Linked DNA regions of Homo sapiens. The protein of the gene in region 1 purifies or fractionates together with the protein of each later gene. This does not show direct contact. Each region holds a gene or a part of one and is shown in the gene's direction. Other genes may lie near its edges.

Region 1 (3,600 bases):
TGCTATCCACACGGCTTGCTCCCTCCTTCCCTTCAGCTATATGATCAAATATTGCTAAGTTAGGCCTTGCCTGCCTACCTGTTTGCTTGAATTTTTCTCATTATCTCTAATCACTACCCGACACTGTATTATTATTATTACTATTTTATTTTTGAGACGAAGTCTCTCTCTGTCGCCCAGGCTGGAGTGCAGTGGCGCGATCTCGGCTCACTGCAAGCTCCGCCTCCCGGGTTCACGCCATTCTCCTGCCTCAGCCTCCCGAGTAGCTGGGACTACAGGCGCCCGTCATCCCGCCCAGCTAATTTTTTTATTTTTAGTAGAGACGGAGTTTCACCGTGTTAGCCAAGATGGTCTCGATCTCCTGACCCCGTGATCCGCCCACCTCGGCCTCCCAAAGTGCTAGGATTACAGGCGTGAGCCACTGCGCCCGGCCTCGGCTAACTTTGTGTATTTTTAGTAGACGGGGTTTCGCCATGTTAGCCAGGCTGATCTGGAACTCCTGACTTCAAGCGATTGCCCACCTCGGCCTCCCAAAGTGCTGAGATTACAGGCGTGAGCCACTGTGCCTGGCCTTGGACACTGTATTTGCCTGGTGGCCGACTGTCTCCCTGACAACACTCAAGCTCCACAACCATGTGGGTTATTTTGCTCATTGCTCTATTTCCAGAGCCTAGCACAGTGCTTGGCACATAGCAGATGCTCAATAAGTATCTACTGCGTGTGCCATTCTCTTCCTTGAATTTCTGTAATACTCATCCAATACCATTCTTGCGAGACTTACCCGTATGCTTTTTCTGCCAGTGGCTACCTGTGAAAGCTTCGACTTGTCTATGAGCTCCCTGAGGACAGGGCCTGGCTCAGGGAAACAATTCCTGTCATCTGTGCAGTTTACCATCCCCTCACAGATCGCCTAATTTGATTTAACCAAAGCAAACAGGCCACGGAGGCAGATATTGTTAGCAATCCAGATCTCTCCTGCTACCTAGACTAAGCTTAACAAATATTTGATTGAGAGAGAGAGAGAGAGATTGGGAGAGAGAAACTTGAGTCACTTTGTGGAGCGAGGAAGCCCTTCTGGGCTAATGGAATGGTTCTCTGTAGCACATTCAACAGTACTCATAACAGCTAGCATTTGTTGAACTTAATTTTTTTTCTTTTGAGACAGAGTCTTGCTCTGTCGCCAGGCTGGGGTGCAGTGGCGCGATCTTGGCTCACTGCAACCTCTGCCCCCGGGTTCAAACGATTCTCCTGCCTCAGCCTCCCGAGTAGCTGGGACTATAGGAGCGAACCACCACGCCCAGCTAATTTTTGTATTTTTAGTAGAAACGGGGTTTCACCATGTTGGCCAGGATGGTCTCGATCTCTTGACCTTGGCCCGCCTCGGCCTTCCAAAGTGCTGGGATTACAGGCGTGAGCCACCGCGGCCGACCTGTTGAACTTAATTTTCTAATCTCTACCTGTGTCATCCTCACAGATATTCTGTCTGCAGCTATACCGGCAGGGATCTTTATGTCTTATCTGTTATCTTCCGGTGCCTAAACAAGGCCTGGCACATAGTAGGTGCTGAATAAATGGCGTCAGCCCGAGGCTCCTCAATTCGTGCCCGGGCTCAGGTGCAGCGCGGCGCTCCAGATCCTGCCGTAGCGAGCGGCAGCGCTGGGCTCCTGCCCCGCTCCCGGCGCGCTCCCCCAGTGCTGGGTTGGGCTGGGTTGGGCTGGGCCGGGCCGGTCCGCGCTCGGCGGCAGTTCCGGGTGCGCCGCAGGAGTGAGCGCGTGCACGGGGTGGGGCGCGGAGGGCCGGTCCCCTCCCAGCCGCGGTGCCTTCCGCATCCCCGCCCGCGGGGACTGTGGGGTGCGGTTCCCTCGCCGCCACTCGCTGCTGCAGGCCCAGAGTCGGGGACTGGACCTCAGACAGCCAGGAGACCTTTCCGCCCCGGCCCGCAACCCGTGCCGGGGACTCCCGGCAGCCGCGCCGCGCAGCGCCGCGCCCCGCCCCGCCTCGCAGGCCCCGCCCCCGCACCCCGTCGGCGCCCGCCTCTCGCGCCGCTCTCCATACTTGGCGATCGCCGCAGCCCCGCGCGCTCATTGGCCGCGAGCTGGCGGCGTGGGGGGCGGGCCCGGGCCGGGCCGGGGCGGGGAAGGAAGGTGGCGGCGGCCCGGCGCGGGGGGAGGGGGGTGCTGACCCGGATGTTCACTCCTGGGCACCCGGGGAAGTGGAAGCGCCGGGCCCTGCTGCGGGGGGGAGAGCCACTGACGCCGGGACCGGGACCGCCGCCGCCGCCGCCACCATGGTAAAGGCCGCACGGCCCCCTCCCCGGCCCGGGGGCCCCTCCGGAGCTCGCGTCCCCCTCCCCCTGCCCATCCCTGGCCTGGGACGGGTGGCTTCCCGGGGTGGGGGAGGGGCGGGGTCCCGGACCCTGGGTGGACCCGGTCCCTCCCCGCCCAGGAGGGTGCCGCCGGCGCGGACGACTTGGGTGGCAGTGACCCTGCCCCCGCTCCCAGCCCCCGCCCTTGGCGCAAGCTGGAGTCCCACTCACTACCTCTGTGTTCAGGCTGGTCTCTCCCATAGCCCAGGCTAGACCCTCCCTCCCGAACCGTGTCCCCAGCCAGGCACCCCCTCGGTGACCCTGGCGTGGGCCCCCTTCCTCCCCCGGTCTAGGGCTAGGTCTGCTTTCCCCCGTCTCTCCGGCCCAGGCTAGGCCGTCGTTTCTCCCTGCCATGGCCCAGGCTAGGCCGCTGCCTCCCTCTGTCCCTCCCCCTTTGCCTTCTCCATGGCCTCAGGCTGGACCCCGGTCAGCCCCTTCTGCAGCGGCCTAGGTTTGCTTCCCCTCTTCTCCGTGGCCTCAGCCTGAATCTCCTCTTCTCTCTGTGAACTTAAATCTGGACCTCCTCTTCTCCGCCCATGGCCCCCGTCTGGACCTCACTGCCCCCTCCCCACCATGATCCCCTTCCCTGGACTTTTCGCCACTCCTAGCGTAACCTGCGTCAGCCCCGCTCGGTCCCCGCCCTGAGCCTCTCATCAGGGTCCTGCCCCCTGCCTGGTGCACGACCCAGGGTCCCCTTCCCTGTACCTGGGGCGCGCCTTCTTTGCAGCCTTTGGGGAGCGAGGGGAGCTCTCCATCAGGGATGGGGTGGTCCCGGTGCTGTGCCTTCTCAGTTGCCGCTTCTAGGGAGGCCGCCTAGGAGCCAGCGAGGGAAGGGCGGGCATCGGTGTGCCCAGAAGGCAGCGCGCTGCTCTGCGGGCCCTTCTCGAGGCTGCCGCCGTGGGTGCTGTGCGTGCGAAGCATTCTGCAGGGCAGGCCGGGGTCCACGGCGCCCGGGCCTGAGTGGGAGCCGAGGGGCGAGGATGGGTGGCCCACAGGACAAGGATGAACGCACAATCGCCCTTGTGAGGCCGTGGCCTTGGGGGGCCACCAGGCCCTGGATCCAGCATATGGCCTGGACACGATGCACCCAAGCAGGCGCAGCCTCCCCTTCCCTCTGAACTGTCAGCTTGCAAGGGTTGGAACTGCTGATTATGGAAGTCCCTCGGATCAGGTGAGCAGAACGCCTAGGGAGAGTGCTGGCTCCGCTCGTGGTGTTTGTTTTGGTAAAGAAGGCA
Region 2 (3,819 bases), on another chromosome or scaffold:
TAAGGGTCAATAACAAGAAAGAATTGTGGGTGCTGTAGTTTAAGGGCACGAGCTTTGACATTAGAACGTTGCAGAGGGGAGTGAGCATGGAGGGAACAGAAGGGACCTTGAGAAGCAAGCAGGACCCTTTATTTTGCCCAGGCCTAGTAGGTGATGATGTGGGAGAATTAACGACATGGGAGAGGGCGGCCAGGGAAGTGTGACCTCTGCAGAGGGCAAAGGTCAGATGGAGCCAGAGTCACTTCATTGTCTGGGGACAGGTGGAGTGCCAGGTGCTTGGTGCCTTGTTTGTCCCCCTCTTCTCTCCACGTCCTCCCCACTCTCTGCCGCCATCATCCCATGAGTCCTATGCCGAGGGGCCAGTGCACACATTTCCCTTCACCCTCACCTAACTGGGAGATGAGCATTGTTGCCACCAGCCCTAATGTACAGATGGGGAAGCTGAGGCTCAGAGAGACCAAGTGTCTGCCATATGTGAGGGAGGGCACATGCTGGTAAGAGGCAGTGCTGGGACGGCTCAAGCCAGGCGCTGTCACACCCCCCAGTGCCTTTTGCCTGGGTCCCATAGCCTTCCTGCTTCCTTGGCACCTTCTGTGCCATGAGGGGCACCCCCTGCACGCTGTAGCCACTCCCCCGAGCTGCTCTGTAGCTGCACTGCACCTCGAATCCTGCTTGGACGCGAAACCCTCTCTCCCCTCACGACTCCCACATGCTGAGGTGCTTCAAGAGCCAGATTCACAATGTTCCTTTTCCCTTTATAAAGCAGGTGTTATGGACCCCGAACTGTGGCCTCTGAGGAGATCCTCACATGAGCTTTGGGTTGAGTGGGTGAGGGGTTCCAACCACCTGAGACGAAAGGAATTATGCTTTGTGAATAAGGATAGGCGCATTCTGGGGAAGAAGGTCTAAAGGGGGCTCTGTGAGAAGTCCTGCCTTGAGTCGTCTGTGGGGCCCCTCCCAGCTATCCCAAGAGGACCCCCTCGGGTTCCAGTTGCCTCCTCCCAGCCTGGGAGAAGCTGACCTGGGGTCTGTGTGGGGTCGGAGGGGACCCTCCCCGCCCCGCTGAGAGGTGAGTGACGGATCTTGACCTTTCTTTCTCTTGCAGATTTCCAAGCCCTGGATTCCCTCAAGTCCAGCCCCCTCCTCAGAGAATGGAGGCCCTGCCAGCCCAGGCCTCCCCGCAGAAGCCTCAGGCTCAGGCCCTGGCTCTCCCCATCTTCACCCGCCTGATAAGAGTTCTCCCTGCCACTCACAGCTTCTGGAAGCCCAGACTCCTGAAGCTTCCCAGGCTTCTCCCTGCCCCGCTGTGACTCCATCAGCTCCAAGTGCAGCCCTGCCTGACGAGGGCTCCCGCCACACCCCCAGCCCGGGGCTCCCTGCCGAGGGGGCTCCAGAGGCCCCCAGACCCAGCAGCCCACCCCCTGAGGTCTTGGAGCCCCATAGCCTGGATCAGCCCCCTGCCACCTCACCCCGGCCCCTGATCGAGGTGGGTGAGTTGCTGGATCTCACTCGGACGTTTCCATCTGGCGGGGAGGAGGAGGCCAAGGGTGACGCACACCTCCGCCCCACCAGCCTGGTTCAGCGCCGATTCTCTGAAGGTGTGCTCCAGTCACCCAGTCAGGACCAGGAGAAGCTGGGGGGCTCGCTGGCTGCCCTGCCCCAAGGCCAGGGGAGCCAGTTGGCCCTGGATCGTCCCTTTGGGGCAGAGTCCAACTGGAGCTTATCACAGTCCTTCGAATGGACCTTCCCCACGAGGCCCTCGGGTCTGGGCGTGTGGCGGCTGGACTCCCCGCCTCCCTCCCCCATCACTGAAGCCAGTGAGGCCGCCGAGGCTGCTGAGGCTGGCAACTTGGCCGTTTCCAGCAGGGAAGAAGGAGTGTCTCAGCAGGGGCAAGGGGCTGGGTCAGCTCCAAGTGGGTCAGGAAGTTCCTGGGTGCAGGGGGATGATCCAAGCATGTCCCTCACCCAGAAGGGCGATGGGGAGAGTCAACCTCAATTCCCAGCTGTTCCCCTTGAGCCCCTGCCTACAACTGAGGGCACACCTGGATTACCTTTGCAGCAGGCAGAGGAGAGATACGAGTCGCAGGAGCCCTTGGCTGGACAGGAGTCCCCTCTCCCCCTGGCTACCAGGGAGGCAGCCTTGCCCATCCTGGAGCCAGTCCTGGGGCAGGAGCAGCCAGCAGCCCCTGACCAGCCCTGTGTTCTCTTTGCTGATGCCCCTGAGCCTGGACAGGCACTGCCTGTTGAGGAGGAGGCCGTGACCCTAGCCCGGGCTGAGACCACCCAAGCCAGGACAGAGGCTCAAGACTTGTGTAGGGCATCCCCCGAGCCTCCAGGCCCTGAAAGCAGCTCCCGCTGGCTGGACGACCTCCTGGCTTCACCACCACCCAGTGGTGGCGGTGCAAGGCGGGGAGCTGGAGCTGAGCTGAAGGACACACAGTCCCCAAGTACCTGCTCTGAGGTGAGAATGGGCATAGGGAGAATGGGACTTCTGGGGACAGAGGCCAGGGCTTGGGTGGGCTTCATTCTTTGAACATGGATTTTACATGTCGAGAGCTTGGGCTGTGGTAGTGAGCAAGGCAGCTGTGGACCTGCAGATTGTAGCTCTGCAGAGCCACACAGGACGGTGTGTGTGTGGGGTTTCGTGTGAGGCTCTATCCCAGCTCCAGCAATCGCTAGCTGATTGGTCTTGGGAAGAACGTACCTTAACTGCTGGGCTTCAGAGTGCTTTCCTGATAGTAGCATTGGCCTCTTAGAGTTATATTGTGGGTAAATCGAGGTGGAAAGCTCTCGGCACAGTGCGTGGCAGGTGCTGAGTATTCAGTCTCTCATTATGGGAATATCGTTCAAGGCAAAATAGTGTAGCCATTTAGAGCGTGGGCTCCTGGGTTCATCTCCTGGCTCTGCTTTCCTTTGCCCAGGTGTGACCTTAAAAGAGTGACTTTTCTGCCCTCTGCCTCAGTTTCCACATCTGTAAAATGTGGATAACAAGATGAGTTCTACCTCCAAGGGTGTTGGCAAGGGTTCAATGAGCTGTAATGTCTAAAGTGCTAAGAATAGTGCCTGGCTCATCCTAAGTGCTTAAGAAGTGTTGGCTTTTACAAACGTTATTAACATTGAGCTCCAGACCTGCTTTGTAGACAGGCAGCTGGGCCTCAGAGGAGGTTAGCCTTGTGCAGTTATCCAGCAAGTTGGTGGCTGGGCCCGGGCCAGCGCCGTTTCCCGGCCCAGTGCCCTTTCTCCTACCAGGCTGCCTCTGAATTTAAGGGCCGGGGGCCAGGTGGCTTTCGAAATTTATTTCTCAAGCCGGGCCTGGGCTGCAAGGGGCGGGGCTGCAGGAAAGGAGGAGCCAGGGGGCCTCTGGGGGCTGCGGGGCGGGGAGAAGGAGGAGCAGGAAGGGGTTAAGCTGACTCCTGTAGTAGGTGTGTCTGTCCCGGGATGTGGGTGACTCAACTGGCTCCTGGGCGGGGCTGCCCAAGCTGCAGCTGCTCCGGAGGGAGCAGGGCCAGGGTGAGGGAGAGCCAGCGCCAGAGCCGTCGGACAGGTCCCAGCGCGGGTAGCAGCCCAGCTCTATCCCTGCGCCCGGCTGGCCGCACCCAGCAGCCCCAAGGCGGGTTGGGGGCGGGGGGCCATGGCCCAGCCTGGGGATGGGGAGGCCAGCATGTCTATCCTGGAGCGGCTGCTGGCCAACGCTGCGCTGAGGGATGAGGCTGGCCGGCTCCGAAGCCCTGAGCCCAGGGCTCTCCCGCCCACAAGGGTGAGTCAGGGAGCGTGAGGTGGGGGGTGGGGTGCAAGAAGCCCTGGCTGGGATTTTCCCCT

What was found. The genes of interacting proteins can lie anywhere in the genome.
Region 2: the proteins of CAPZB (region 1) and TNKS1BP1 purify together in Homo sapiens (co-immunoprecipitation; 5 studies listed by BioGRID and IntAct, with this or other methods). This does not show direct contact.

Annotation. Positions count from the first base shown.
Region 1 is NC_000001.11:19,484,126-19,487,725, reverse strand, and holds the start of CAPZB (F-actin-capping protein subunit beta), read left to right. Parts: upstream 1-2,186; 5' UTR 2,187-2,287; coding exon 2,288-2,290; intron 2,291-3,070; exon of another isoform or gene 3,071-3,206; intron 3,207-3,430; exon of another isoform or gene 3,431-3,446; coding exon of another isoform or gene 3,447-3,536; intron 3,537-3,600. UniProt on the Homo sapiens protein: F-actin-capping proteins bind in a Ca(2+)-independent manner to the fast growing ends of actin filaments (barbed end) thereby blocking the exchange of subunits at these ends.
Region 2 is NC_000011.10:57,311,176-57,314,994, reverse strand, and holds part of TNKS1BP1 (182 kDa tankyrase-1-binding protein), read left to right. Parts: intron 1-1,105; coding exon 1,106-2,461; intron 2,462-3,476; exon of another isoform or gene 3,477-3,631; coding exon of another isoform or gene 3,632-3,757; intron 3,758-3,819.